Linked DNA regions of Homo sapiens: all the other regions are linked to region 1. The links come from fine-mapping of genetic effects on gene expression. A gene starts in region 1. Each other region holds a variant in brackets. All regions are shown on one strand. Distances are from middle to middle.

Evidence for each region.
Region 2: its variant is fine-mapped to the expression of SCUBE2 in lung (TOPMed, PIP 0.95).
Region 3: its variant is fine-mapped to the expression of SCUBE2 in uterus (GTEx, PIP 0.95).
Region 4: its variant is fine-mapped to the expression of SCUBE2 in blood mononuclear cells (TOPMed, PIP above 0.99).
Region 5: its variant is fine-mapped to the expression of SCUBE2 in tibial artery (GTEx, PIP 0.95).
Region 6: its variant is fine-mapped to the expression of SCUBE2 in transverse colon (GTEx, PIP 0.94).

The regions. Positions count from the first base shown.
Region 1 is chr11:9,088,932-9,094,036 of GRCh38, forward strand. It overlaps SCUBE2 (signal peptide, CUB domain and EGF like domain containing 2), which reads right to left and starts at 2,668. Exons shown (of 23, transcript NM_001367977.2): 1 at 2,465-2,668; 2 at 776-898. The coding sequence starts at 2,597. MIR5691 (microRNA 5691) reads right to left here and starts at 1,448; the gene lies at 1,381-1,448.
Region 2 is chr11:9,039,222-9,044,326 of GRCh38, forward strand. The region is part of intron 16 of SCUBE2 (signal peptide, CUB domain and EGF like domain containing 2); the gene reads right to left. The region is part of intron 1 of NRIP3-DT (NRIP3 divergent transcript); the gene reads left to right. Among named protein-coding and RNA genes, the nearest start is that of NRIP3-DT, 38 kb to the left of the region's middle. RefSeq lists a silencer at 25-74. The variant G/A (reference allele first, on the strand shown) is at 2,037.
Region 3 is chr11:8,258,983-8,264,087 of GRCh38, forward strand. LMO1 (LIM domain only 1) reads right to left here and starts at 4,896. Exons shown (of 4, transcript NM_002315.3): 1 at 4,356-4,896. The coding sequence starts at 4,380. RefSeq lists enhancers at 1,350-1,851, 2,782-3,321 and a silencer at 4,018-4,107. The variant T/G (reference allele first, on the strand shown) is at 2,175.
Region 4 is chr11:8,841,787-8,846,891 of GRCh38, forward strand. It overlaps a transcript of DENND2B not described here and the pseudogene RNA5SP330. Among named protein-coding and RNA genes, the nearest start is that of DENND2B, 34 kb to the left of the region's middle. The variant G/A (reference allele first, on the strand shown) is at 2,522.
Region 5 is chr11:9,051,091-9,056,195 of GRCh38, forward strand. SCUBE2 (signal peptide, CUB domain and EGF like domain containing 2) reads right to left here. Exons shown (of 23, transcript NM_001367977.2): 10 at 4,703-4,819; 11 at 2,547-2,669; 12 at 2,009-2,125; 13 at 1,656-1,742. All of the region lies in intron 1 of NRIP3-DT (NRIP3 divergent transcript), which reads left to right. Among named protein-coding and RNA genes, the nearest start is that of MIR5691, 37 kb to the right of the region's middle. The variant G/T (reference allele first, on the strand shown) is at 2,383.
Region 6 is chr11:9,018,863-9,023,967 of GRCh38, forward strand. SCUBE2 (signal peptide, CUB domain and EGF like domain containing 2) reads right to left here. Exons shown (of 23, transcript NM_001367977.2): 22 at 3,014-3,093; 23 at 614-2,335. The coding sequence ends at 2,183. All of the region lies in intron 1 of NRIP3-DT (NRIP3 divergent transcript), which reads left to right. Among named protein-coding and RNA genes, the nearest start is that of NRIP3-DT, 17 kb to the left of the region's middle. The variant C/CT (reference allele first, on the strand shown) is at 2,568.

The sequences.
Region 1 (5,105 bases):
CTCAGTGTCCCCATCTGTGAAATGAGTAATAGCATTGGCCCAGAGCTACCTGAATAGCCCAGTCAGCTCCAATGTGTCATGATTTCCATCTCCAGGAACAGCCTCGAGTGTCCAGTCTCTGGCCAGCTATGAACTTCACAGTTCATGACTCTAGTCCAGATTATAAAATGGCAGAGTCCAAACCACAGGTTCTCAGACCTGCAGCTCTATGGGCTAAAATGCCCCTCTGCACACATCTCTCCAGAGTGAACCTGTAACTCCAAACGAGGAAGGTCCTTGGTGTACTCTGAAGCTTGGCACGTCACAATGCCAAACATTGTGGCCAAAGCCATAAACAGGATGGAGCCTCCTGAGCTGGTAGGGGAGGGCAGGACTCTCTAGCACTCAGACTTCAGGGCAAAGGTACAAACCGCCCCAGGGAGGTGCAGGATCAGCCCTGCTCTGGCAGGCATGGCTCTCCTGATCAGCATGGATGTTTACTTTCTGCCCCAAAACTGAGTGGGACCCAAAGATACTAACACATCTCTTTTCTTTTCCAGAAGCTAGACAAAAGGACATTTCAGAGCCAGATAAAACTGTGTGAGCAGCTCTGGGGAAGACCTAATGTTTCCAGTCCAAGATCTGAAATATATTTCAGAGAGCAGGTGATGTGATTCAGGGGCTGGGGGAAAGGGAGAGGAGGGGCAGTACTTTTACCAACATAAGTGGCCACTGCAAGAGCTAAGGAGGTAGGAGCTTCCCTACAGTCCCCCCACATGGTCCCCAAGGCACTTACCCTCACACTGCCTGCCTTCCCCTTGGTAGCCAGGCTTGCAGGAGCACTTGTAGGAGGTGGGTGTGTTCTGACACAGGGCGTCGGCATGGCAGTCATCTAGCCCTTGGGCACACTCATCTACATCTGCAAAAGAGCACAGCTGACACCTGGTACAGGCTCCCAGGCCATGTGTGATCTGGCCTCGGCCCTGTCTGGCATCATCCTCACCAGCCCACCCCGCTTCACTCCTCACAAGCTACAGCTGCTTGGGATCCCTGGGATAAACCAAACTGTTTCTGGGTCCCTGTTTCCAGGAACAGCCCGGACACTCTACGTGAAATTACCCCCACCATCACCTACTGGCCTTCAGGACTTAGCTCAAATCCACCTCCTCCAGGAAGCCTGCCATGACCCCCATTGTAGCTGCCCTCACCAAGTGCTCGCATATGTATGGCTTTGCATGCACACATCAGGCAGGGTTGTCACTGTTTTCCTTCCTCTCTCTCCACTAGACAATGTCTTGACAACAGACTGCGTCTGTGTCCCTTATGCCAAGCCAGCGCAGTACCTGGCATGTGAGTAGGCAATAGTACCTACATGCCCGCTAAAGGAGGAAAGGACCAAACGGACAGACAAGCTCTGAACACCAAGCAGCTGTCTGTCAGCTTTCTCGGAGCTCAGAGCAAGCTTGTCCAACACAGCCCGTGGGCTACGTGCAGCCCAGGACAGTTTTGAATGCGGCCCAATGCAAATTCATAAACTTTCTTAAAACATTATGAGATTTTTTTTTTATTTATTTATTTATTTTTTTTTTTTGCTCATCAGCTGTCGTTTGTGTTGGTATATTTTATGTGTGGCCCAATTCTTCTTCTTCCACTGTGGCCCAGGTAAGCCAAAAGATTGCACCCCGCTGGTTTAGAGTATTTATGGGAAGTCTGCCCCGGGATCGGAGCAGATGTCATCCAGGGCTCTCAGATGCTGCGAAGCGGGGATGGTGTCCCCATGGCCGGCCCCCTGCACTCCCACCCCTGCCCATCCTCTCAACCTGGAAACCCGCCTTGGCAGAAGTATTTCCTGGGTTGACACTACTCCAGGATATTAATTAAAAACAAAAGCATTTTGAAAGTATTGCAAGTCCAGTAAGCACAGCACGTCCAGAGTCCTCTCTGGAAACCAAAGTTCTCTGCTGAAAACCTAGGCTTGTTGCTGCTTCAGGGTAATTCCCAGATCGGAACAGGCGCTGTTCCGCTGACAGAAAAGTCTCTGGAGCCCACCCCGAAGCCATCAGCAGAACTTGCCGGCCCCCAAAGAAAGAAACGGCAAAGCTGCCACCGCCTCGCGGATGTGCCCGGCCCGGCCCTCAGTTTCCCCGCCTACGCTGAGGCGCGGGACCCCAAGGCCAGGGTCCGCACCCTCCTGCCTGCTCGCCGGCGACGGTCTGACTAGCAGGCGCTCTGGAGGCATCCGGACCGGGGCGGGAACCGTCAGCAGCTCCGGGTCCGAGGCCGGGCCGAAGGACTCAGGGCCCCAGCGGTCGTGGCGCCTTGGCCCGGCCGGCGGGTGAGGTCCCGGGGGGAGCAGAGGCCCCCGCGGAGCTGCAGCCGCCAGCCCCGAGCCCCGCGCGCCCGGCTCTGGACTCCGCCGGGGACCTAAACACTCTTCCTGGCCCTGCCTGCTGTGCCAGGTGCGCCCCCGCGGCCGGACACTCACCCTCCTGCGGCCCCGCGGCACGGCCCCGACCCGGCGGGACGGCCCCCGCCAGCAGCAGCAGTGGCGGCAGCAGCAGCAGCAGCAGCAGCACCGCCCAGGCCGCCCCGGGACGGTTGCGGCCCGCGACCCCCATGGATGGCTCAGCGGTTGCGGGCAGAGGCGGCGGAGTGCGGGCGGTGGCGGCGGCGGCGCGGGGAGGTGTGCGCGGACGCCCTGCCCGCTGCCGCTGCCACCCCCGGCCCGGCCCCGCCCGCCCCCCGAGCCCCGGCCTCATTTTCACACGGTCCCTCCCGGGCCGGGGCGGGAAGCGCAGGCGGGAGCAGTGCCGCCCCGCCCGGCCTCCTCCCGTCCCCTCCCCGGCCTCGGGTGGAGGGGGCGCGGCCGCGGTGGCCCGAGCGCGGCTGTCAGCCTGGCGGGGCGGCAGCACCGTGCCTCGCGCCCCGCGCAGCCCTGGCACCCAGCCCGCTGCCCCCCGCATCCCCGCTCCGCTCCAACGCTCGGAGCCCTCGGTGCCGCGCCTGTTCCAGTGTGTTACAACTCGACCCAGGCCCTCATGTGAGGACAAACAGCCCTTCTAGATTGAAATATTCGGGGTCAGGGCGCCCAGAAAGTGTTCCGTATAGTCCCCAAACCCCAAAGCCATCTTGGGGCTTTCCACGTGGGAGGTGGGAGGTGGGAGTGGAAGGAATTGGGGGTGACTTCCAATTCGGGAAAACAGCTGTTTGAATGGAGAAGGTGACCCTGGCTTCTCTGCCCACCCCAGCACACCCTCTGCACCCTTCTCCACACTGCCCACCCCAGGCCCTCTGGGATCCTCCATCCCACAGCCCTGAGGGCACTGGTCCACTTGTCCCACTGTGGGGCACACTGGGCCTAGAATCCCTGCAAGCTACTTATGTATATCTCAGGGCAGCCTAAGGGGAAGGGGGCTAGAGGTCAAAGGTGAGCCACCAGAGACAACAGACAGCAGCCCCGACTTTGCCGGAGTACAGGTGGCATTTACGATCACCTGAACTCATAAACATCAGGTCTGGCTAGCTTCAAACACAGGCAGGGCCTAGCACCTAGCCTTCCATGAAAGACAGTCCTTGCAAGGGAACAGGTACACAGGGTCTTCCCATATCACACTTGACACGGATGGCTGGAGCCCAATACACCCACCATCACTCCAGGAACAAATATAGTAACAATTTCCGGACGCAACCAAACATCACACTTAGGGATAGTAATGTTCTTCACTGAGCTTCTCCGTATTTATTCAATTTTCTCCTGCGATTATATACATACACATATGTATATATGCAGGCACACGCACGCGCGCACACACACACACACCATTCCTTTGGAGATCAGAAAAAAAATAGATGTCACCAAAAAATCCCCACCTAGCTCATGCACAAAAACTCTTATGTCTTCTTGGGGCCTATCCACAGCCCAGAGCTCCCAGCCTCTGCACCCTCAGTACCCACTGTCTGCCACCCCAGCCCCCGAACATGCCCACGGGGGCCTGCCTCTTTGGGCTGTGGCTAGTGCAGCTGCTTGATGGAGCTATCTGAGAAAATAACTTTTCTGTAGTTGTTTTTCTTTTGACCCTTTCAGTGAAGGCAGGCAGGTTGCGTCCCTCTTTCTGTCTGCGCCTCCCTCCCACTCCCTTTTGTTTGGTGCTGAGAGAGACACTCAGCTATTTCTGGTCATAAGGGTGGTTTTTACACATTTGTAAATCTTCAGTTAGTGAAACGTTCTCTCCACCTTTGTCTTTGTGTCCTTAATGGTAGCCATAAATTACTGCCTTCTTTTCTCTCCACTGCATCAGGCTTCATTGCTTTTGAAATGATCAAAGTTATTTCTTTTAAAATCCAACTAGAAACTGCCCATTGTGTGGCACAGACCTCTTTAGCTCCAGTTAAAGCATATAAATACATAAAGCTGCCCATTAAACTCTAGGGGGAGCCTCCTGCAGCGCCCTTGTGCCTGGCAAAGAAATCACACATGTGCTATTCTTCCCCTTTACCTTTCCCTAACTTGATCTTTCAGTAAGGACATAAATTAATAATGACAAGAATCAGCGCCTTTTTGCCTAAGACTGTCAGCTTTTGTCATGTTTCCCAGAAAAGTCCACCACTGGCACAGATCTCAAAAAATGTTCTGTATCCTATTTTGTTTGCGCTGACATCCTTACAAACGTGCTTTCAGCTGTTGGCTCCCAGACTCCTGGGCAACCTTTTTGACACTTGAGATTAAAGTCAATATGGCTTACAACCGGGAATTTCCACAGGGGGAAGCTCCAGGGGAAAACTGTGTCCAAATGTCAGTGTTTTTGGTGTCAGGAGGAACTTGGTTGGCTCTACTCTGGCTGCAGGCTGCCCTCTATTCTGCAGCTGAGGTCCCCACAAACTTCTCAGAAAGGCCTCAGACACCGTCCCTGGACTGAGGCTAAAGCTCCCTCTTCCTCTCCCTGTCTCCTCTCCACAGGCTGAGAGGCCATGAACCAGGCCTCAGGGGTGCGAAGAGGCAGTCCAGCCAGCCCAGTCACACTGGTGTGGGCCTTTGAGGAGGCTGAAGAAAGCCTGGTAGTGGCCGGCCATGCGTGCCCCTGAACTACACATAAGCAGGTGCCACTCTGCACTCATGGGACACCATT
Region 2 (5,105 bases), 50 kb before region 1:
CCTGGTACAACAGACTGAGCTAGAGATGACGGTGGCTTGAAACAGAGCAGTAATAATAACGGAGGAGGAGAAAACTGGTCAGATAAAGGAAATTACCTGAAGGCAGAGCTGACAGGATTTGCACACGGACTGGATGAGGAACGCAACAGAAAGGGAGAGGTCAAGATGACTCAGGCTTTCCACTTGAGCAACTGGGTGAGGCGAGGTGCCCCTTACTGAGATGCTGGTTTGATTTGATTTGAAGCTTGAGAGGATAAGAAGCTTTGTTTGGAAACACTGAGTTTGAGATGCCAGTTGGCCATCCAAGTGCGGACACTAGGAAGGCACGGGTTCTACTGTTGGTCTCTGAGGCGGAATACTACACCTCGGGGGTTGACAAGATGATCCACCGGGTGGGAGCACGTTTCTACACCCATGCCTACGAATTTTCACCTAAAATAAGAAACAAACGAAGCTCCTCTGGTTTAGAATATGGTGTAAGAGCAGCCTCCCAGCCAGTCTCCATCTCTGTGAGGCACAAGACACATGTGAGGAGCCAGGGTCGCCAAGAAAAGAGAAGCACTGGCACCCACAACTCGGGCGCAGGGCACTGACTGACTCTCGCCTCTCAATACATAGAGAATAGTTACAGCTTAGCTATGCCTGGGTAATGAGATGTCCTGACCTATATGATCGTGTTTTTAACTAAACTAACCATCACAAAATAGAAAGCAGCTTTGATGGATTCCCGGAAAGAACACCCGACTGAAGGGCGTAAACGTGACGCGAGCCCATGCGCACCACAGGAGTGTCCGTGGGCGCATCTTCTGCTCCTAGCACAGCAGCCACGCGCGTCCGCACCACAGGAGAGGGCCCGTGGGTGCATCTTCTGCTCCTAGCACAGCAGCCACCCGTGTCCACAGTGGAGCGGAGGTTTCCCATCCAAGACCCCCAGTGGGTGCCTGGAACCTCGGAGAGTACCACACCCTATATACACTAGGGGTTTTCCTATGCGTGCTTATTCATGATAAAGTTTCATTTATAAATTAGGCACAGCAAGAGATTAACAATAATAATAAAATAAAACAATTATCACAACATATTATAATAAAAAGTTATGTGAATGTGGTCTCTCTCTCAAAGTATCTTATAGTACCGTACTCACCCTTCTTGTGATCTGTCAATCTGATAACTGAGATGACTACTATGTGACTAACATGGGGGAGGGTATACACCGTGGGTACACAGGAGAAAGGGAGGATTCATATCCCAGGCAGGATGGGGAGGGTACACAGCGTGGGTACGCAGGAGAAAGGGAGGATTCATATCCCAGGCAGGATGGGGAGGGTACACAGCATGGGTACGTAGGAGAAAGGGAGGATTCATATCCCAGGCAGGATGGGGAGGGTATACACCGTGGGTACGCAGGAGAAAGGGAGGATTCATATCCCAGGCAGGATGGGGAGGGTACACAGTGTGGGTACGCAGGAGAAAGGGAGGATTCATATTCCAGGCAGGATGGGGAGGGTATACACCGTGGGTACGCAGCATAAAGGGAGGATTCATATCCCAGGCAGGATGGAGCAGGACAACACGAGATTTCATCACACCACTCTGAAGAGTGGGCAATTTAAAACTTACAAATTGTTTATTTCTGGAATTTTCCATTTGATATTCTTGGACCATGGTTGACCCAGGTAACTGAAACCACAGAAAGCAAAACTGCCTATAAGGAGGCACTAGTGTATTACCTCTTTGTCAAACTACATCATGAGACAGAAACAGTTACGATTTAATCTGGTCTGTCAAGAGTTCACCTAAAGCACTAGCAATAGTCAAAAAGACTATAGGACAAATGGATTTGCAACCACCACTATCAATAATGAACTTCGCCCAATTGTAAAGATTCTACCTTAAGATGCTAGCCAGTTATTTTTAAATTTGTTTAATCTTTATCTTGTTCTGTCTTTTGTGATGAACATAGTGTACTAGCCAATAGTGTAAGTATATAGTTTATAAATAAGTAAACATTCATATATATTTTACTTAGAGGGAGA[G/A]AGAATGTGTGTGTGTGCATTCTTAAATGTTCAGCATCTCTGGGACAAAGGAGCTGGAGAGGGCAGTTTCAGAATCGCCAGCATGTGGTGGTATTTAAAGCTATGGCACTGGGTAAGGTCACCAAGGAGAGTGTGAAGACAGAGGAAGGGACGAAGGATTCAACCCTAGGATAATCAGAAAGTAGGGGAGGAACCGGAACCAGCATTGAAAATGAAAAGGGAGCAGCCAGTGAGGTATGGAGAAGCAGAAGTGTGTTGTGTCTGAAACCCACAGGAAGAAAGTGTTTCCAGGAGAGGGAGTGATCAGCAGAGAGGATGCCTCATGAGGAGTGAGGAAAGGCAACTGGATTCGGCATCACAGAGGTGGTTAGGAATCTTGGAAAATGTTTCTGTGGAGAGGTTAGGCATGAAAATCAGACTGAAGAGAAATGGGAGGTAAGGAGGCAAAGACAGTATGACTACGGCTCCTTCAAAGAGCTTCGTTCTACACAGAATGGGGGACACAGAAATGAGGCAGTAGCTATAGAGATGCATGAAGTCAATGGAGGGTTTGTTTGGTTTTTAAGACAGGAGATGGGTTTGTGTGATGTTGGAAATGATCTAGCAGAGGAGAAGAATTCTGAGATGGGAGGGGTTGATGGGGACAGCATGGGCAACATTCTTAAGAAGCTGAGAGAGAACAGGCTCCAGCTTGAGTGCAAGATAGAGGGGGGCCTTAGAGGCATGGGCTGCCCATCCATTTTAACAGGAGGCAGGTCTGAGCCTGTGTGGACAGACTCGGGATTAGGCAAGTTAGGCTGGACATGAAGAGAAGAAGTTGTTTCGCTAGACTCCCAGACACCCATGGACACCTCTGCCTAGAAATCTTGTTGCCCAAGGAGCACTTCTCTCCCTGGCCTCTGGCTTTACTCCTCTTACAGAAGCATCTCTATTTTCCCAGGCACCAAGGCTCCAAATCACAGCTCTCCCTGGCTTCTCTCCTCACTGCCCTGTCACTCAGCGGCAGCATCCTACAGCTGTGTCCCTTCTCTCTATCCCCTATTCTTCGTCCCCATGGCATGAATGTCCCTTAGATCCTCACCGTCTCTTATTTGGATTGCCGCAGTAACCTTCCAAGATTCCCCTGGCTTTCTGTCCCTCCCTGCCTCCACTCTTTCCATTCTACCATCAGATGCACCTTTCTAAACTCTTTTTCTGATTGCTTCACTCCCTGGCTCAAAAACCTCCTTGCCTTGCCTTCCTGCACTCCTCTCAGTTTCTCTGACTCAATATTCAGGCTTTAGCCTCCTTTTATGTATCTTTTTCATCCTTTCTCATGCTCTCTCAAGAGCCTATTTTTTTCCTGCTTCTCCTATAAATCTCTTCTGATTATTTCTTCCCCAGTGATCACATTCATTTCATCATTCAACCAACCCCCTGGCGTTTTCTCAGTGCCTCCTGCATATGAAACAGGGCATGGTGAGATGAGGGATGTATGGGAAGCAAGTGCCAGGATCACAGGCCACATCAGAATCCTCTGAGCTCAGCCCACCTCTTTCCCCTTCTCAGTCCCCAATCCATGTCATCCCCAAATGCTGCTCATTTTCCCTCTTAAATATTTCTCTAACCCATTGCTGTTTCTCTATCTAGGACCTGCATGTTCTCAGTATCTCATAGGCAACACATTCAAAAGCCCCCAGATTGGTCTTTCTGCCTCTAATTCTGCTCCCTCCAGTAAAGTCAGAGAGATCTTTCTAGAATACACATATGACCTGGACACTTCCCGAGTAAATCCTCCAATGGCAGCATGTCACCTAGAGATAAAGTTGAGGCTCCTTAGCAACATATCCAAGGTTGCTGCAGAGGAACAGCAGTAAGCTGTTACAAAAGGAATTAAATGTTCCTAGTCTCTCAAGAACCCAGGCACTAAAATACTTCCCAGTTTGCCAGTTGTCTGGATTGTTTCTTCTAAAAATCTCAGCAAGTTTTCAAAACAACCAAATACAGTATATATAATACATACATACATACATACATATATACACACACATGCATACACACACATATATATTATCCAGTGTATTTCTTAAATAATTTATCTTTTAGCTGGTATTATGAAAGTACAATAGCTAGACATCCATGTCATATAGTTAATTTTCTTTAGACATGAAGAACTTTATGAAGTACTACAGAGCTTAAGAAATTTGTTCCTTGGACCCTATAATCATTTTTTTTTTTTGCCATCTTGTTAAAATTGATCACAGATGGTACAAAGGTCACTTGGAGAGCAGGCTGTCCCCAAAGTCCCCAAATGCCAAATTAATGAAACTTTACTATATAAAATAATGATAAGAAAGAAAATATACAATTGGTCAGAAGTGATTATTTTCTCTGGTGTAAATTGGGACTTTAAAATTTATTTTTTAATGCTATACAAAGGACAAACAGTTCAATGCAAAAATAGGCAAAGAATATAGATGTTTTCAGAAGAAGGAATCCAAATGACCACAGGCATAAGACAGCATGCTTAGTCTTACTAATAAAGAAAACCAAGTTAAAATGACTATTTTTTTTTTTTTTTGCTTACCAGATTTGCAAAAATGAAAAGGATCAATGATAAATAATCCATGTTAGCAAAGATGTAGGATGCTTCCAACGTTGGAAGCGACATGCATAGGCATGATCTTTTGGGAAAGTAATTTGGCAGTATCTATTAAAGTTTTAAATATGCAAGTTCTTTGAGTCGGCCATTGTACTTTTGCAAGTCTATCCTTCAGAAATATTGGCCATGTGTACAAAGAATGATATTCATTGAGCACTATTTGCCATATAAAAATTAGCAATAACTTCTATGTTCACCAGTAGGGGTAGGGCTAATCAATACTGGTGTCTTCAAACAAATACAGCCTGGGAAGCTGTAAAAGAAATGAGGTTGCTCCGCTATCATGTTAGAGAGATGTTCTTGATCTAACTACAGTTAAAAACAACACATAGCACTATTCAAATTGTATTGATATTTGTTTTTTATTTTGTTAAGATAGGCTCTTGGTCTGCCACCCAGGCTGCAGTGCAGTGACACAATCATAGCTC
Region 3 (5,105 bases), 830 kb before region 1:
TTAATGCAGTATTGACTGCATTACACGCTCCCGTGCCTCCCCTCGCTAATGCCAATTGCATCACCTTGTACAGTCACTGGCTTGCTTAGCCAATAGCCGTTAAAAGCAATCCAAATCATGAATCATATGGGAAACTTTTAGCAAGACACCGCCATCCAAGGAGACAATTTACAGTTGAGTTAATCTGGGTACATTAGCGAGACATGGATTCCGGACGACAGACCAATTTATGTTGTTTCCCTGTCCCCCCTTAGTGCTGCTCTGTGTGAGCAAATGAATGGAAGAGCAGGGAACAGAGAGAAGCACCTGCTTCTTCACCCAAGGCTCGGGTGTGTGTGTGGGGTTGGGGGGCGGGTTACCCATCTTTACAGACACTCTGCCTGGCTAAGTTTGGGCAGGAAGGGGAAGCGGCTGTATGTGCAGCTCAGGATGTGATGCCTCATTCCCAGCAGAAAGGAGGGCTGCCGCTGGGGCTGGTCATGGTAGATGCAGATGGTAACCCTCCCGCTCCCCTGCTTCTAGGCACTGGGCAAGTGCACAATTTGGTCCCCACCCTGCCAGACTCACAAGGCCTTTACCAGGCCTCAGCAGGCAGCAGTGTCCACTTGGCTCCGCCTTCCTGCTGATGGGCTGGGGTCTCTGGCATGGAACAGCATCAGGGCCTGCCTCCCTCTCCAGGGTTGGGACGGTCATGAGCACACTCTGCCAGGAGAGGCCCCTGGGATTCTCTGTGGTCTAGAACATGAGTGTCTATCCTAGGAAATCCTACTGGTGGCCCAGCAAGGGCTGGTTGGTACCCAAGCATAGCCATGCGCCGGCTCTGGTGGATTAACTGAGTCGGCTGTGGAATTTGTGCTCCTAGCAGTCATTAACAATTGAAGACTCCGCTGTCTGGTCCTCCTCAGTCCAGCTTCACTCTCTTGGGCATTTTTACTTATTAAAAATGCCCTAGGAATCATGTCTGGTGTTTAGTTCCACAACCCGCCTGCTGCTTCCTGTGGTCACCCCCACCTTCCTGCTGGGCCTTTGCAAAGGCCGTTTATACCCAGCCCTGCCCTTCTCCTGTGTGCACCTGAGAGCATCCCAGCATCCCCAGCTGGATGCCCCAGCCTCCTCTCCTGCCCAGTCCCCCACAGACCAAAGCTCTCACTGTTCTTGGGCCCTCTCAGACTCTCTGCTGTCTGCTCCTACTCAAAGGCCTCTTCTCGAACAGCCCAGGGGCTCATTTGACTTGGGTAGCATTCAGAGCTGTAGCTCTCCTTGCTCCCTTGGGATTTTAACCCTCCCAAAAAGCTCACCACCTGGTGCCAGCCCAAGCCGCAGGTGCCAGGGGAAGAAGGGCTGTTTCTCCGGGAAAGTTGGAGCTCAGTTCCATTTCGCTGACAGGCAGACCCAGCAGCATGTAGAAAGCCCGGACCCTGAGTTCCAGTAAAGTGGAGATGGCTAGGCCAAGAGCAAGCATCCAAATGAAAGCAATTAATCTTAAAACCCGAAGTTTAACCGTTTGCAAAACAGATCTTTCCGTCTCTGTGGTGACCCTTCACTGCTCGACCTAATGGATTACTTTATTAATAATGCACTGTGCTTAAAAGCAAAAAAAAATTTTTTTTTTCTGACGATTCAATACTTCAGAAAGTCTCTTAAACCCGTTGCTACGGCAAAACGATTGATATTTTATTATCTTTCAGAAGTGCAACATGAAAGCCCTGCAGCCCAGCAGAGCGGGAGCTTTGGTCCTCGGCAGCTGGCAGACCCGACTTCAACCAGAGGAGCCCCAGCCTCTCCAGACAAGATGCTGTCAGGTGGAGAAAAGGCGTTGGGGGTGGTTAATAGCAGCCCTGAGTCCCTGCTGCAGCCAGACAAAAGGTGCCGTATGCAGGGAACGCACCCTTTGGGGGAGCCGGGGGGTGGGGGAATGCTGCCACCCAGTTCAGATAGCCACCTGCTGAGAGGGCAGAAGCGTTCAAGAAGAAGATAGGTGGTTGGTTTGGAGGAGCAGATGAGTGCATCCAGAACCTTTCTCCCTCCCCCAATTGAAGATGCCATCTTCAAGGTTTCCTGGAACTATGGGAGGCCAGACTCCTCTTAATAGGGAGTGGAGTGCAGATGCATGAGCAGAAACGTCGCTTTTGAAAGACAGCTATGGGCTGGGTAGGACAAGAATAGGTGGCTGC[T/G]TAGGACACCAGTGGATGTGCTTGTGCTGTAATGGACCCCAGAGCCCAGCAGCTCCATGGTAGTGGGCACCATATTGTTTAGGCTGGACAGGCTGGGGATGGAGGGGCATCTGGAGCTCTCTTCCACAGATCTAGCAGAAACCAGAAGAAACATCTGCCCAGGGTGCTTGAGGTACACTGCAATTTGGAGGCAGGGAGCTGGCTAAAATGACCTCCAGAAATCCATTCTCACTCAAGGCTCATCTGAAACCCTTTGTATTATCTCAGAGCCAGAGGCATCATGTGGTGCCTGGGCAGAGCAAGATCCTGGGTGCAGGTAGGGGGTGTCATCTTGTTGGCATGAGACCAATCTCCCTGGCCTGAGGCCTCTCACGTACAGAGCCCGAGTCTTCTGGATTCCTGGCTTGGGCCTGGGGAGCCAAGTATGCCAAATAACCTCTGCTAAAGATGAACCTTGCATGCTCCCCATAGTGACAGTATCTCCAGGTACCAAGGAAGTACCCTCTCCCCTGGCTTCTCCAAGCCCTTCATTTTTACCAAGAGGGAAGGTGAACATGGGGAGTTCGTGATGAAAGGCACCAAATCAAGGTCTCTTCCCTCCCTGTCTGGCCCAACCCCAGACCCCTTCTTCTCCTTTTCATTCTATATGAAGTTCTCCGATGGCCTACATGGGGCTCCAGGGAAGGGGTCCGTGAATAGAGAAGACATATTGAAGATGATGTCCCACCCCAGCTAGCCCAGAAGCACTGAGGTTCCCCCCATCCTCTCTCTTCCTACACACATACTGAGAGCCACAGGTCCTCCTAGATGCCACCCCCAGGCCAGATACTTCAAATTCCCCCTCCCTGCTGGATGTCTCAGAAGGCGGTAGCAGCCTGGGGGCATCGGCACCTGGCAGCGGCAATGCGAACATCCTGTGTGACCCTGAGCAAGTCACTTAGCTTTGCATTTTCACCAACTGGCCACATCAATAACAACGCTGCCCCAGGGACAGAGGGCTCAGGCCCAGCAGAGACTCCTGAACGGAAGGGCAGAGGATGGCCACTACAGTCACTTTAAGAGGATTCCCGCTGACTCAAAGCAAACCTACCCTTTCGGTACCTCACCAATGGCAGAACGCCGGCGGCAGCGTGGGCACCAACAGTCACATACAAATGCCCCTGCAACACCAACACACAGGCCTCACCTACAGGGCAGGAGGTCCTGGGACAGCCAAGGTACTGCCTCTCTCCTTACCCTGGGGACTCATCTTAGGGCACCCACTTGGCTTTCCCCCCAAGGGGGCTGGGATCCCCAGCCTTCTAGGACACTTAACTGCAGGGCACTCCCTGCCAGTAAGGCTTTGGGGTCTATGGGACCACCTGCTAGTGGCTTCCAGCAGCCATGGGCTCCTCTGTTCCGACCTTTCCCGTGCCCTGCAGTTTTCTAGGGCGCACTGAGGCTCGACCACGGAAGGTCCGTGCCACTCTCGCAGGCCGCTCCCGCACAAGTGCTACCGGCCGGCGGCGGGACACTTTCTTCCTCTGGGCCAAACTCCCGCCTCCGCGCTCAGAGAGACAGGGAGCTAGCGGGCCGGCACAAGAGGCGGCTCTCTTTCTCACCGAGTCACGCTCATGCAGATGTCCCCCGGAGGGTCCAACCCGCCTTCCCCTCGCCTGCCGGGCACCCTGGCGCTCGCGCCGTCCTCCCGCGCTCCCGCTTGCCCCGAGCTCTGGAGCCCGATTCTCCCCGAAGCCGCTGATTTGCTCGGCGCTCAGCGCCTCTCGGGTTACGCGGCGGCTGGCGCGAGGGTGATGGCTGCGGTGAGAGCAGCAGCCTCAGACACGAAATGCTCAGAGCGAACCTCCGCGGCGCGGAGATCGCAAGGGAGCCCCAGCCTCCGCGCGGCCCCGCGGCGCAGCACACGGCCAGTGCACAGCTCCTCGGCTCGCGGCCGGGACCCGGGGGGCGTGCGGCCCCGGGCGCGTGCAGCCCGGGGCTCGACCTCCTCCCCCCGCAAGTTCCGCCCGGCTGTCCCCCGGTACTTCCCCCCGCCCCAGCCCCGGCCCCCAGCGCGCCGCCCGCCCCGCAATCCCCGCACAGCCCAGCAGGTGTGCGCCCGTGTCCCCGCGTGTGTGTGCCTGCGCGCCGCGGCAGGGGGCGAGGGGGTGAGGGGCGTCGAGACCCCGGCCCGCCACCTACCGTCCTCCTTGTCCAGCACCATCATCTCGGGCGCTCCGTGTCCAGCCGCAGCTAGGCTCGGCCGGGAGAAGGGCGCCGACTCGGGGCGCGCTTTGGAGGGGCGGCCGGTCTTCGGGCAGCTAGCGGGCTCTAATTACCCGCTTGTCCGGCTCTTAACCTAGATTGCACTCAGCTAGAATTACATTCAGGAGTGAAGCACTTCGCAGATACAAAAGCAGTCTCACCTACTTTTGTGCCTCAGAATTGGAAGGAACTACGAACTGCAATTTAGAGAGAGAGGGAGAGGGAGAGAGAAGGGGGAAAAGAGGATCAGAGCCGTTTCTTTGATTCTCACCTTCTAAATGGCTCAATTTGCCCAGTATAATCTGTCTTAATGTAATTGCATTTGATAGCTCATAACCCTGTCTCTGGCAACGACACAGCTTTCAGCCTCATAAAGTGTTTTCCCCTCGGATTTAATCTGAATCTCAATCTAAAATTATATTCAAAGAGATGGGGGAATCTCGTGGCCGTCTCCCGCTGCCTTTCTCCCTCAATGTATGAGGTTTGCACTCCTGCTACTGCATAAATGCACACATTTCCTGAGGCCTCCACCCTCCCGGGTTAATGGGGAGTGGAGACGCACGGCTGTCCGGCTCCGCAGCGCCACCTGGAGGCTTCTAGGTCCTAGCTCGGTGAGCGTCTTTGCTCCGATCCCAGGGTCGTGGTCTTCAATGATTGTCTGGAGGACGCATCCCATCTGTCACTCCC
Region 4 (5,105 bases), 250 kb before region 1:
AAATTCCCTTTCCATGAAACGGAAACAGTCTGAGCAACTCCTGATGTCTCTCTCCTCGATTCCTCTATTCTAACCATCATTCTTCCTCTCCCCAAACACCTCCAGATCAAGGGTACTTGGGTTTTCAGGCCAGTTAGCTGGATACCATGAGTTCCCCAGTTCAATCCAGAGTATCCCCCATTCTCCACGATTTCAGCACAAGGCGGCATCACAAAGTAGTAGAAAGAAATCTGCAATCAAATGAACCAAAGTTCAAATCCTGGATCTTCAGTGATTTACATAATTTCTCTGAGTCATGATTTCCTCCTCTCTGAGACAATCCGTTCACGAAAGTATCAAGTTGTGAACGGCACATAGTAGGTCCCCGGTGCTGACTCATTACTTCCTTGACAGGTTTCTCTCCTGTCCTCCCAAAAAAGATAGGCTTTTTAGAGACTTTTTTAAAAACAGGGAGCTGGAAATACTGATATTAAGAAGACATTGTTCCACAAGGAATCAAAGTCGTGCAGTGTCCCTTACCTTGCTGTGCTGGTCACATTCCGATGACTGCCCTCAATTTCTTTCCAGCCTCTCTTAGGAAAGGCCCAGAACATCTATTTAATGGTATAAACCTCCATTTCTCCCTCTCAAGAGTCTGGAGTTATGAATTATTAGGTGGCTCAGGGTTCTCTAAGGGTAAGGCTTTCAGTGTCATCCTGGAAAATATTAAAATGTGGAAAAACCACTCATCCCACCACCTCGTGTTTCTGTGTGGTATCGACTCGACCCTTTATGGTTTCCTTTTGGAGTGCATTCAATCTGCCCTGCGCAAACACCACATCAGGTCTCTATCACTGTGCTAAACAAATGTTCCAAATGGGAAAAAAATTGTCATAAATATTTTTTGGGACTGCTCACAGTCTTATTTCACTGCACTTATTTCAAGTCTTTCACTTATTTAAAGTCTTATTTCACTTATTTCATGATGGAGACATCATGAAAGACAAAGAATTCCCTGTAATTCCCTGTACCAGAAAAGTGTCACACGTGCTACCTTTCCTGAGACCAAAGAGTTTATACAGTTAAATTCTTTACAGTAAGGGTGATTTCGTAAATGCATACATTCAGTTTGATTTAATGTTTAGGACTCTGTAAAGGCTTCTCATGTAAGCAAATTCAAAAATCAGGACAAAAATCCTGTACTGGCCTAAGGATCTCAAATTTTGGCTCCAAAATTAGAGTTGCTCTTCTTTTCTCTCTTTTTTTTTTGAAATGCAGTCTCACTCTGTCACCCAGGCTGGAGTGCAGTGGCGCGATCTCGGCTCACTGCAACATCCGCCTCCCGGGTTCAAGCAATTCTCCTGCCTCAGCCTCCTGAGGGGCTGGGATTACAGGCAAGTGCCACCACGCCTGGCTAATTTTTGTATTTTTTGTAGAGACGGGGTTTCACCATGTTGGTCTCGAACTCCTGACCTCAGGTGATTCGCCCACCTCGGCCTCCCAAAGTGCAGGGATTACAGGCGCGAGCCACCGTGCCCGGCCGGAGTCACTCGTCTTAATAACAAGCTAAAGGCCCTAATTGAGCATGTGGCCAATGTGGAACCTTAGGCTGCAGCACTAAGCCCAATCAGCCCATTGCTACTAAGTACAAAACCTGCAAGAGGAACAGACTCTCAGTGGGCCTCAATTTCTTCCTCTAGCAGAATGTAAATAAGAATCTCTGCATTTGTAAAAATGTCCAGAAGATTACTAAGATGGAAAACAGTCACTGGGAAGGAAGCACCCCTTCAGGGGTCATTCTTGGCCTCACTTGCTCATGCCTGGCCCTTGGCAACAGCTACCTCCACAGATCTCCAGCCCCACCACCGCCTCTCCTTTCCAAGCCCTCCTCTCATACGGAATACACAAATCCTGTCACAAATAATACGCTGTCTGGCTGCCGTAAATCACCATCCTGCTCATGCCACCCCTGTGCTTTCCCCCAAGGTTGATCCTGATATTCTCTACCTCCAGACCCTTTGCACACACCACTCCCTCTTCCCAGAATGGCTTCCCTCCTCTGTTTGCTAAGCCAACTCCAACAGTCCCTCAAGATGCCGCTCCCACGGCACCTCCTTTGGTTGCTTTCTCTGGCCATGGGCTTCCCTTGCATCTTCTCCTCAACATTCTTTGCTTTCCTCTGGTCAAACATCTGTATCATACTCCATTGTAAATGTCTGTTTATCTTATGTGCCCTAAAAGAATGTTATATTACCCTCCTTACATTTAATATTTAAATTTTTGCATCACAACCAGTAGTAAAGACGTACTTTCTGCCATATTCTAAATATTGGCATTTTATAAATATTTACAGGCCTGGCACAGTGGTGCATGCCTGTAATCCCAGCACTTGAGGAGGCTGAGGTGGGAGAATGGCTTGAGCTCAGGAGTTCAAGACCAGCCTAGGCAACATAGTGAAACCTCAGCTCCACAAAAAAATCGAAAAGTTAGCCAAGTGTGGTGGTGCATGCCTACAGTCCCAGCTACTTGGGAGGCTAGGTGG[G/A]AGGATGGCTTGAGCCCGGGAGATCGAGGCTGCAGTGAGCCATGATTGCACCACTGTATTCCAGCCTGGGTGACAGAGCAGAACTCTGTCTCGACAAAAATGTTTTATTAAAAATAAATAAATATTTACATTTTTAAATTAAATACAACATTACTCTCTTAAATGAATCTAAATGATCCAATGGACTCTAAATGCCATAGTGGATCATCTATTTAAAAGAACATACATTTTATACTATGCCTTTTTGTTAACTCTTACTTCCTTTTATTTCGTTTTCAGAATTTTATCCTAATATTTATGCTTCAAAATCTTTTACTGATCAACCTATACTTCTCTGCAATATATATATTAGTATTATACATATATACATATAAATGCATAAATTTTTAAATTCTGCTATGATTATAACCTCAATTTTTTATTCTATTTATTTTATTTTTTTTTAGAGACAGGGTCTTGCTGTATCACCCAAGCTGGAGTGCAGTGGCATAATCATAGCTCACTGCAGCCTCAAACTCCTGAGCTCAAGCAATCCTCCTGCTTCAGCCTCCCAAGCAGCTAGAACTACAGATGCCCACCACATTGCTCAGCTAATTCTTTCTATTTTTTATTTTTGTAGGAACAGAGTCTTGCTTTGTTGCCCAGGCTGGTTTCGAATTACTGGCCTCAAGTGATCCTCCTGCCTCGGCTTTCCAAAGTGTTCAGATTACAGGTGTGAGCCACCACATCCAGGCTATAACTTGTAAATGTTAAAAAAAAAATTCTTCTTCTGGATTGGGTTTTCATTATCTTTATTGTTTGAATATGCAAATGATCAAAACATAATTGGTTTAGAAATTGGTACTATTATTAAACATAAAAAGTAAAATTTTATTCAAAATGCATTAATTTTTCATTTTTATAGTGGTAAGCACCAAGAAACCTTGTTCACATAAATAACTAAACAGAAGTGACAGTCTACAGCCATACTACCCTGAATGTGCCATCTCGTCTGATCTCAAAAGCTAAGCAGGGTCAGGCCCCGTTAGTACTTGAATGGGAGAAGTAAAATAAATTTTGCTATAGCAATATCAGTATCTTTAGAATCACAAGTCAAAATCATGTCATGACCTATAATCAAAAATTATTTTTAATTATCTACCAACTGACAATGCCTTCAATTTTGTTGAAAGCAAGAATTGGAAACCATCTGACTTAGAAAAGGATTTGCTACTCACAGTCATTCACTTTCCTAATAATAGTCCTAATTGTTCCTTTGCTTGTTAATCTGGAGGCTTTCACACATCAGGCACACAAACAGCAAGACTCCAGATTAATAATGACTATGTCTTCCTTTTGTAAAGTGGGAGAAGAGTGATTGAGAAAGGAAACACCTTGAGTGCAACTGAATTCTCAGACAGATCAGCCTTTGGAAAGGGGACATAGAAAGTCAAGGATCTAGAAAATATACCCTGTCTGAAGACTACTAGCTTATCTGCCTCTCCCACCAAAACAGTGGCATTATCAAAATTAACATTAAATTATGTTTATTCGTGGATAATTACTGTTATATTTTAACAGAAAGAGACTGAAGACAGCCTAAATGTGCTCAATAAAGGTCTGATTAAATAAATTACAGAGTGTCTAGAAACCAAAAATACACGGTTTCTCTTCAGGACTGAATCAAGTCCCTTCAGAATCAGGGCCCACACTTTATTCCCACAGCCTCAGCTCCTACAAGCCCTTCGAAGGTCCTCATGTGCATCATTCCCCACTGCAAGTAATGGTTTCTAGATGGGAAACCATGGTCCACAGAGCAACACAGACAGGGACGTGCCAGAGGACATAAGGACAGTAAGACCTAAAGTGTACTGCTGAGGCTTGTTATGAACACTCATGGAATTGCAACCTGGAAGCCTATGTCTGGGGAAAGGGAGAGGGGACAGTGTCTATGCTAAGAGAACAAGTAGCAAGGAGCCAGAAGAAGGCTGAGTGTGGTATGAAGGAATAAATACTCAAGAAGCTGGTAAGGCTGGTGACATTGGAAGGAAGATCCCCCAACAGGCTGCTGGCCCTAGAGGTCAGGGCGCTATCTATCCTTGGAAGAAGACAAGTGGAGGACAGTATCATCCGAACCAAAGCAGCGCCCAGGCTGAAGGGCCCACTGGGCAGACACTCCAAGAGAAGGCTCATGGTCATCACAATGGGGAGGAGGGGAGAAGAGGAGTGAGCCAAGACGCGGCTGCTTGCGGACAGGGCAGAACCTACAGATGGGAACAAATGAACCTGGTTTCATAAAACAGCTTCCCTCCTCTGTGCCCCAGAGTAGTCCTCCCAGTTAAAGTCCCCTTTCTCGTTCTCTTCACCAAGTCAAATCCTGCCAACCTGCCAAGGGCCAAGATGATGCCCCTTGTTCTCCATGCAGCCTCCTCAAACACTTCTGCTTATAGTCAGTTCTTCTACCTCTAAACCCTCATCATTCTCTGTTTATACCAGAGGCGGCCTGCAATATTTCTAAACCGCTCCATGATCCATTTGTATTTTGATATTAATCCTTAGCTCTTTGCTGTAGGTGTTTGATGCCTCTCTGAAGATAAGGCTTGTG
Region 5 (5,105 bases), 38 kb before region 1:
AGGCAGAGGTTGCAGTGAGCTGAGATTGCACCACTGCACTCTAGCCTAGGCAACAGAGTGAATGAGACTCCATTTCAAAAAAAACAAAAAATTATCTATCTATCTATCTATCTATCTATCTATCTATCTATCTATCTACCTACCTACCTATCTATCTATCTATCTATCTACCTATCTATCTATCTAAAACTGAGGGTCAAAAATAGCCTCCACGGTGAAATAGAACATGAAGTCATTTTTGTGCCTTCCTGAGAAAAAAAGGCCAGAATCCCCCAGTTCAAATCTGGATAAGCCCGTTTGGCGAAACGGTGAAGGGCAGATTCTCCTAAACAAGCCCGTCGTGGGAGGACAGGGCTGAGGGAGCTGTTGTTCCAGACACAGATGGCACTCACTAAACATGGCTAGGCTCTGAGGTCTGAGAGGGAGTGAGGGTCCCACTGTGAGAGCCTGATGTGCAAAATTCTGTTCTCCTCCCAGGGTCAGTCAGTCTTAACCATCCGGTAGGATCTGGAGTCAATGCCCTACAGCTCTTTTAAGTTGTGGTGAGAACTTGAGCAAGTTACTTAATCTCCCTAAGCTTCAGTGTCCTCATCTGTAAAACAGGCATAATTATAGTACCTATATTACCAGGCTGTTGTAAGGATAAAATGAGATAATGCATTTAAAAAAAGGAAAATGTTTAGCTCCTTGCCTGGTACGTAGTAATAACTGCATAGCCATTAGCTATTTGCTTGCCCCACCTTGGGGTGGCCCAAATCACCAAGGAACTGTCACTGAGGGATTTGGCGAAACAGACCATGATGTATGCCCTGGCTGAGTCCAAACGTGCATTGAAAGGGGCAGTGAAGGATAGTGCTTGAGACTCTGGACCCAGACTGCCTGGGTTCAAATCCCAGCTCCCCTATTTCTTATCTAAACCACTTTGAGTAAGTTATTTCACCTCTCTGAGCCTCAGTTTCTTCATCTGGTTAATGAGAATAATAGTAAAATTTCCTCAGAGGGTTGTAGTATGGCTTAAGTCAGTTAATTCGTGTACTATGGTAGCTGGCATATTTGAATTGCTCAGTCAACACATACAAGCTGTACTGTCTTGCTTTGAGTCTCTAGCTTTGCTCATATATGTAATATGAACATCAGGATGTAATATGAACCTCATTCAGGTGTTCCAATGACATAATGACAAAGGCGTCTATATCCGGGAGGACACAGCCTCCTAAAAACCTTGGATTTCATTCTTCATCTTTTGACAAACAGGAAAGGGTTTGGGCCCCTTTCTCGGCACAGAATCCCTGCTGCCCCTGCTTTGCCTATTTCTATCCACACCATGTGCTCCAGGCACATTCCCTGGGCCTTTGAGGTGCTCTGGAGTACAGCCTGCTGGTCCTGGGGTTCTGTGGGCCTCTGCCCAGGGTGATGACCCACCAGGGCTGACCACAGCCTCCTGACACACAGTGGCCACACAGTAAGTATCTGTTACATGGGAGAGTCACATTCCGGGCACCAGGACTGCAGGCAACAACACCCTGGAACATGCTCACAGCATCAAGGAAATTAACAGAAAAAAAACAAAGCCAATGTCCAAGAACAGCACCCCGTGAATGAAGCCCCTTGAACACAGTGAGCCCCCAGAGAGAACACGCAGATTTGGTAATTACCCCCAAAAGCAGAGTCATTTGATTTTTGTTGTTTGTTCCTGAGAGGAGAGGAAGAGCCACAGGTGACAGAGTAGGCCCCTTGCAGTCCTGACAGACAGAATGTCAATTGTCAAATGCATAAGCAAGGTCACAGGCTATCCTGGTAGCAGCTAAACTGTCCCCCCACCCCACTCCACATGGGCCACTAGAAAAATGCCCAGCATATGGGGTCTCGAAGCATGGACCTCTCAAAGCACGGTGGTCGGGGCATCTGGCGGAGGACCTGGAAGCCCTTTGAGGGAATCTAACACCTGGAGGCCAGAGAGGCCTGGCCCCAGTGTGAGGACCTGCCCCGGGAACTGGGCCCCACTCACCTGAAGAGAGGTGAATGCCAGAGTGACATCTGAGGAAGCACCCGTCTCCTCCACCACTCTTACCGCAGTGCAGGGACACACGGGGTGACACACTTGTGGGCAGGAGCCCCTTCACTTCTAGACAGGACAAAACAGACACTTACAGAAAGAGAAGGACATTTCCAAGTGTGACAAGGATGGTTGAGTCCCATGCACCAAAGGCCCCAAGAAAAGAAGGTAGAGCTCATGCCCAGCACAGAACATAGATGCTAGGCCTTATTCCCACCAAGGGAAAGGAGCCCCTGATATGCCATTTCTTCATGCAGAAAAGCAACCAGGAAAACAGAAGTGAGTTCCAACCTACACAGAAGCACAGAAGGAAACACCAAAGATCC[G/T]GCAAAGTATCTCCTGTTTTTGAACTATTTAAAGAACAGTTGCTGCAGCTGGTGGGGAAGTCAGTGGAGGGACGGTCAGGTGGGATGTGGGAGCACGCAGAGCTGCACTGCCTCTGGGCCAGTGGCCAGCCTGCTGTCTGAGTCTGTGCCTCGGTTCCCCTTACCCACACAGTCTTTTTTATTCCAGTGGAGCTTGTACCCAGGGTGGCACTGGCATTCATAGCTGCCCACTGTGTTCACACAGACCTGCTGACAGCCTCCGTTGTTGATGCTGCACTCATTGGTGTCTGTGGAACAAAATACTCTCCTGTCATAGCAGCCTGTCACTGAATGGGCTGACATGGTCCCTCCCTTGAGGAAGGAGCAGCAGGGGAGTCACAAGGTTGAAACTCACTAACCAAAGGAAGACACTGAATGCCTTTAGCATGAGCGCTCGGCACCAGCTGACTGCACACCCCACTCCCCACCCAGCAAATTTCCTGGCAGGAGGCTCAATAGGGCCTTCTCAAGCTCCACTCTTTTTTTTTTTTTTTTTTTTTTTGAGATGGAATTTTGCTCTTGTCACTCAGGCTGGAGTGCAGTGGCACCATCTCAGCTCACTGCAACCTCCGTCTCCCAGCTTCAAGCAATTCTCCTGCCTCAGCCTCCCAAGTAGCTGGGATTACGGGCATGTGCCAACACGCCTGGCTAATTTTTGCATTTTTAGTAGAGATGGGGTTTCACCATGTTGGCCAGGCTGGTCTGGAACTCCTGGCCTCAGGTGATCCACCTGCCTTGGCCTCCCAAAGTGCTGGGATTACAGGTGTGAGCCACCACACCCAGACTCAAGCTCCATTCTTGACCAATCCATTCCTCCATTAGCAACACTCAGAAGGATCCGCACTCTACTTTCAGATGTCCAAACTCAGACACTGCACAGACTTCTATTTTAAAACTCTACCATCCTTCTGAGCTGCCTAGCAAGGGAGGCAGACAGAACTGGGACTCCCTGCTTAACCATTTACACAGTTGAGGCACAGAGAAAGGGAAGTGACTACACTAATTCCCATCAACCTGAGACTGAGTCCAGATCAAAAGGTAGCTCCACCTAAACCCAGACATACATCCATACTCAGGGTACATTTCCTCGAGGTTTCCTGATGGACTGGGAAGAGTAGTATGTCTTTGGCCATGCCAAGGATGTGTTGAAAGGGAGAAGGGAGATAACTGTCAGTAGCAAAGCACTAGTGTATATATATATATATATATATATATTTTTTTTTTTTTTTTTTTTTTTTTTTCAGGTGGAGTTTCGCTCTTATTGCCCAGGCTGGAGTGCAATGGCACAACCTCGGCTCACTGCAACCTCCACCTCCCGGGTTCAAGCAATTTTCCTGCCTCAGCTCCCAAGTAGCTGGGATTACAGGCATGCGCCACCACGCCCGGCTAATCTTGTATTTTTAGTAGAGACAGGGTTTCTCCATGTTGGTTAGGCTGGTCTCGAACTCCCGACCTCAGGTGATCCGCCCGCCTTGGCCTCCCAAAGTTCTGGGATTAGAGCCGTAAGCCACCACGCCCAGCATATCCAATCTTCTAAAGCACAAGACTCAGGACTGGTCAGGAAGTATTTAAGCCAGTGGTTCCCAAATCCTATAGATCCTCAGGAAGATGACCTTGGAAGTCCTAGACATTCTGAATTGGAATCTGAACCTGTATTCTCAAAGATTGCTGGGTGAATCTGATGGCTGGGGGAGTGGAGTGGGAGTTAGTTGGTAACAAATCCAGTTTATGGCATAGCCTGCTTGACCATGAGGTTATGAGACATGAGAACATTTTGCAAAATGGGCACAGAGTGGAGAGAGAAACTTCATAGTTCTGCTTCCAGCTCAAAGACCTAGTTGTGGGACTCAAACCAAGGCTTTGCAGCCAGTTCCTATGCATAGCAGGGCTGTGGAATTGGTGGGTGCCCCCCAAGCCTCTCTGAGGACTGTGACTTTACTATCTGCTGAGATGTTCCAATAGATAGGTTATCAGCTCCTGAGATACCCTTCCACTCTCTGAATACAGCCGCAAGTCAATCAAGTCGATAGAGAATTCACAGCTGGAAGAGCTCAGTTCTTCTCTCTGCTCCATTTCACACTCGGTGTGTTAAAGGGATACATGTGGGGAGATTTCCTTTAGCAGATCCTGCTCTCAAGTTGATGGACTCACCGCTATTGCTCAGGGACTGCAATGTACCTTTCATACCCCAATGTAGGAAAGCAAACCTCAGGGGTAGGCCCTGCTCCCCTCCAGGCCCAGCCTCATTCCCCTCCCAACTTGACAGGGGCAGTCTGCTCACCTCCACAGTGGGTGAAGCCATACAGGGTGTACCCTCGGTTGCAAGCACAAGCAAATGTGCCAGGGTGGTTGATGCAGCTGTGGTCACAGGTCCTATCCAAAGAGCACTCATCCACATCTGTAATGGTCAAAGGGAGAGGGGAGCTGAAACCCACTCTGAGGGATGAGTGAAGAATAGGTTTATGATAAATACCAGTTGCTGACCAACACCAAAAACAATACACACAGAGTAAAAAACATTATCTATCCATTTTCCTCACTCACTTGTGTTAAAGAAAGTGTGGAGCAGCCCACAAGAAGTATACTGACTGCCACGGCCCTCATTTCCACATTCTGTTGCAAACTGCACTTCCCTCAAAACTCAGTTGGTCTCTTTCACCCATGCGTACTTGCAGGGCTAATTT
Region 6 (5,105 bases), 70 kb before region 1:
CAATCATCTGTTACAGTAACCTATTTTAATTTTCAACATAGCTCTTACCACTAGCTGCTACTTTTCATGTTGATTTATCTGTTCTTTGTCTGTCTCTTCCCTCTAAAATGTAAGCTTCATGAGGGCAGGGACCTTGTCTGTCTTATCGCCGCATCCCCAGGGCCTAGAGTACCAGGCAGAAGTTTGATAAATATTGATGTAGCAGGTAGAAATAGTATCTCCAGATAGCCAGCCCCCAACAGGATCACAGCATCTCTTAAGGTAGTTGAGGGAATAGAGAGGAAGCTCCTCTTTATACCTCCTGTGCGTCAGTGGTTTGTGCGTGTACCAGCAACACAGCTCTGGTGCATGGGGCTGCCCCGTGGAGGATGCTCCTCCATAGTGACCGGGTTTATGCAGCCTCCTTCCAACCCCCAGAGTATTCCCATCCCTAGCCTTCTTGTGAAATCAGCAAGACAGGATCACACAGTCATGAGCACAAAGTTGCTAACATGCCTGGACAGAATGGTGCAGCTCAGCTCATCTCACCTTCACATCAGTGCGGTCACTAACTCGGGTTTATGTGACATTCGAATTTTCATCTTATGGTTAGACTCAGAAATATAGGCCAAGCTCCAGTATAACAAAGTCCAAGTGCTTGTTTTAATGCTATTTTTTTTTTAATGATGATGTTCAAACTTTTGAAGAGAAATCTGAAAATGAATATTTAGGGCCCATCCAAATAAAGAAGTTTGATTAGGACTTTTTAAGAATCAATGTTATTAACAGGTTAAAAAAAGCAACACTGAGATGAAAAGCAAGTTTAACCATAATGAAGTTCTCTTTGTTTTCTTCAAAAATGCTTGTTAAACATTTTTTTAGTACTTTGGTATGGAGAATTGGCTGTGCATAGAATTGTTATTGAAATAACAAAACACTATAGTTGTAGGTAGTCCATCCATTAGGGAAGTGGTGGCTTGTTTGATTGGATTCCTTTTTATTCACTGTAATGAGATTTTTGCTTGGGGATTTAAATGTTTAAAGATTCAATAACACTGAAAATTCAAGTTCAAGAAATGATCGTGAGGCCCTGCTGGCCTGACCCAAAGTGAGATGATCGTGTGGCATTCAGGGGGTGTTTCTGGCAGTGCTGTTACTGTTAGAGAATGAGACCACCCTTCAAGGGGCTGCTCATGTCCACGGAGCAGAGTCCGTCTCTCACATTTGAGACTGGGGAAGGAAGGCATACATGACAGGCTGGGCCTCACCACACCCACCTGGACCTCAGATCCCTTGTGATGGGAAGCCCACTTGGGGAGTAGAACCCTTGGCAATACCGACTCAGGGTTGGTGAAATCGCCTTTTCATGACAATTGATGATTCTCATCCACTGAGGAAATTACATTTCACCTGAACTCCCCAGTCCCTCAGGCAATGGCCAGCAGAGTGTCAGAGGGCACAGCTGAAGGTGCGAGAGTCAGCATAGTGCATTTGCTGCAGGGTGGAAGCTTGCAACGAGGAAGGCTGGCAATAAATGTACATTATTATGTCTCCAGAAGTGCTTAGTTTTTATTTATTTCTAATTCTTTCTGCTTTTTTTTTTCACGAGCACTGCTTAGAACTCAAGTTCCTGGGATCAAACTTGTATCACACAGGCTGGAGAAGGCTGTGGAGAAACTGAGTCCTCCCAGGTCTCAAGGTGGGTGGAGGGAGCCTGCAGGGGTCTCCTTCCCTCCCCTCTTGCCTGTTCTGCCTGGTCAGAGCCTGCACACGAGTGCAGAGGGCTCCCTTAGAGAGGGCCGGGCTAGAGGAAGCTGAAGTTTCAGAATAAGCAGCTTATTCTGTGGCCTCCTTTCCACTACAGACTCCTTGAGGAGGAGTAAGACCCCAGAAGGACAGGTGAGTCTCACCTAGGCTGACCAAAGTCCAGCTCAGCCAGCCCGTGATCTATCCAAGACATCCGCCCACAGCAGTGAGAAGCTGATGCCACTCAAAGCCATTCTCAGTCTACATCCACGATGCTGGGAAAGAAAAACCAAGTTCAATTTACCAAAATATCTGTATTATCTATAAAAATTGAACTCTAATGAGTCACTGATACGGGAGGCAGCAATACCCGACTGTGCTGACATGCAGAAGGAAGACAGCTCTGTCCCACCAACCCTATAGCAGAACATTTGTATTGAGTGGCACGTGGGCTGAGTCATTTGTAAGGTCTCAAAAACCTGGACACTTTGGAACGTAGCAATCGGATGAACGATCTTGGAAACATCTCTCGGGACTCCTGGGCTGTGTACTTGAAATAGTTCTGGGGATGGGCCAGGACATCAAACAGAGCCTTGATAAGTTTCTTATCCTAAAAAGAACAGAATTTTTGTTACTGGGCCAAAATATTTAAATATGCTGACATTTTGCCCATGGAACTATAATGACCCAGTATTAGGCCGTAGCTTGCTTAGCTGAAAAACACTTGCAAAAATTGTTTCCTCTGATTTTTATCTTCTTTCCAGTTTTTATTTTTCCTAATTAGTTTTAAGAAGTATGAATTACTTTTATAAATAAAACTTTAATATGTAAAATCCTGTTTT[C/CT]TTTTTCCCAACCAGATGAATGCAACACTGGGATTTGGGAGTATTTGTAGGATTAGTGATACCACAAGTGTTTATTGCTAATTATTTATAAGTATTTAAACTTTGGTGAATTTTAGGCTTGAAGTATACATAAAGAGCCAAGGATCCTCAACTATTTGGAATTAATAGAAAAACATTATTTGCTGTTGGTTTGGATTTATAAGCAAATTTCTCCCTGCCCCTCCACAAGTTTCCAAATTGAAAAATACAACTTCACTTGACAACACTAAAGACAGCAACCTGATTTTTTTAAAAATTAAGTCTGGTGAAGGTATAAAACTGACCTTGGCCCAGGACAGGCTCCGTGTCTGAAAGGTGGCAACAAGGAGCAGGAGGAGAAGCCTTCTCCAACAGTACTCGGGAAGCTCTGTGGATAACTGCCATGTCCACCTGAGCCAGGCACTCACCTTAAGTATTTCCTGATGGTTCTCAGATGCATAGAGCCTGCCATCTCGAACTATGTCTTCAATGAGTTCCTGGTAGTCCTCTGTTGGAATAAAGAACATGTTTTGCATTCTTATGATTTAGTTGCTTCCAAACTCACTCTTTCACTTTTTGATAAGGTTCTGAGAAATGCCCCTTCTGTGGCTGCTATCACTTACCATTCTGCTTACTGAGAAGACAGTCAGAAGAAAACTTCCACAGACTCCCACCACCACCTCTCTTCACCTACCAGCATCTGCACCCATCTTCCCCGTCCCCTCTTCCCTCAGACGAGCCTCTGTGCATCCAGTCCAGGCTCATCCCTCCACTTAGCATGCCAGGTCCATCTTCTCTCCCCAAATCAAAAGCATTGTTCTAGTAATTCTGCTCTTTCTTTCCTACATGATACATTTTTCTCTCTATTCGTCTCTCCCACCAGCATGCAAAAATGCTGTATGTCTCTGACTTTAAAAATCCCTCCCTTGACCTCATTTCTCCCTCCAGCTTCCATCTCACTTACCTGCTCCCTTTTGCAGCAAAAATCCTTAAAAAAATTGTCAGCACCCACTGTCTCTAATTCTTTTCCTTTCTTTCTCTCTTAAACCCAGTCCAATCAGCTTTGGCCCCCATCACTCCTCCAAAACTGCTTGGTGAGACCAGCAATGACCTTCATGTTGTTAAATCCCAACGGCCAGTTCTTGGTCTTCATCCTCCTTGATGCATCAGTAGCTTTTGACCTGGCTGGTCACTCCTCCTCCTTGATCCAGTTCTTCACTGAGCTTCCAGGACACCATGCTCTTTGGTTTTCCTCCTACCTTACCGGTTACTTCTCTGAGGCTTCTTTGCTTTTCTTCTTCTCTCTGACCTATTACCAAAGGAGGGTCCCAGGGCTTAGTCCTTGGTCTTCTCTTCTCTGTCTATACTCACTTCCTGTTGAGCTCATCAGGCTCTCCTTTCCCTCTCACCTCCCCACCTCCCGCTTTTTTCTCTATTCTTGTATTATGTAAAACAATCAAGCTTCTTATCCACCAAGAAAGACTCTTCTCTCCTTTATTTGAATGGGGCTGGAGGGTGGAGAATTTGGCTGGTCGGGGAGGAAGAAAACTGTGTGTGTTCTCTCATTAATATTTTTTGTCCTGATATACACATTAAATGCAGTGCATGCTGTACTTCTCCAAATGCCAATCTTCCCCCTTTGAAGTCTAGCTTACTTCCTATAGGCATCATTCAAATTAAGCATATGCAAAGCACAATCTTTTCCAAATTCCAGACACAGAAAAAATGCCTCTTTGTATGCATATCATGTGCGACAAAGCCAAACACATTATGAGAACATCATTGAAATTGTGTGAGAGGAACTCTTGAAAAGTTTCTCTCAGTTAAGGGATGGCAAATGGAAAGTAATGGTATAATAGTCACAATTACTAATTCGATATGTTTACAATAGCATTGGTACTCCATTAGTGTGGTGTCTTTCTTTTATTTTAGTGAATATAAAATATGAGAATACATTTTCTTTTCATCTTGAATTCCTCTGCGGCAGTATCTCTCCTCTTTTTGTTGATGGGACTTACCATTAAGAATGTCGGTTGCTGTGCTGCGTTCTGGTGTAATAGAAAACTAGACAGCTGTTTGCCACTCCACCAAATGCTTCCCGACTGCTATCGTTTAAAAAAAATATTTCTTCTGCTTTTAAGAACTACTGTGTTTCCTTACTTGCTCCAACTCATTAGAAACGCAGGAAAGTTACAGGTAAGAATCCAGGCTCTGGAGTCCCACAGTCCTGGTTCAAACCTTGCTTTGCAACCTTGCCATGCTGGGACCTTAGGTCAGTTCCTTAAATCTCTAAGCCTGAATGGCCTCATCTATAAAATCAGGAAATAATCAAGTCTACTTTATGGAGTGATTGTGAGGAAAGCACCATGTAAAAGTCACTTCAGCATGTACCTGGCAGTCAGCAATGCTCAATGTGTGTTAGCCCCAGCTACAGTTCTCACCGTTGTCCAGCGCTCAGAGGGCCCGTCTGTAGCAGCCTCATGTGCACCTTCTAAATGTGATTTCTATCCTTCTGGGTTT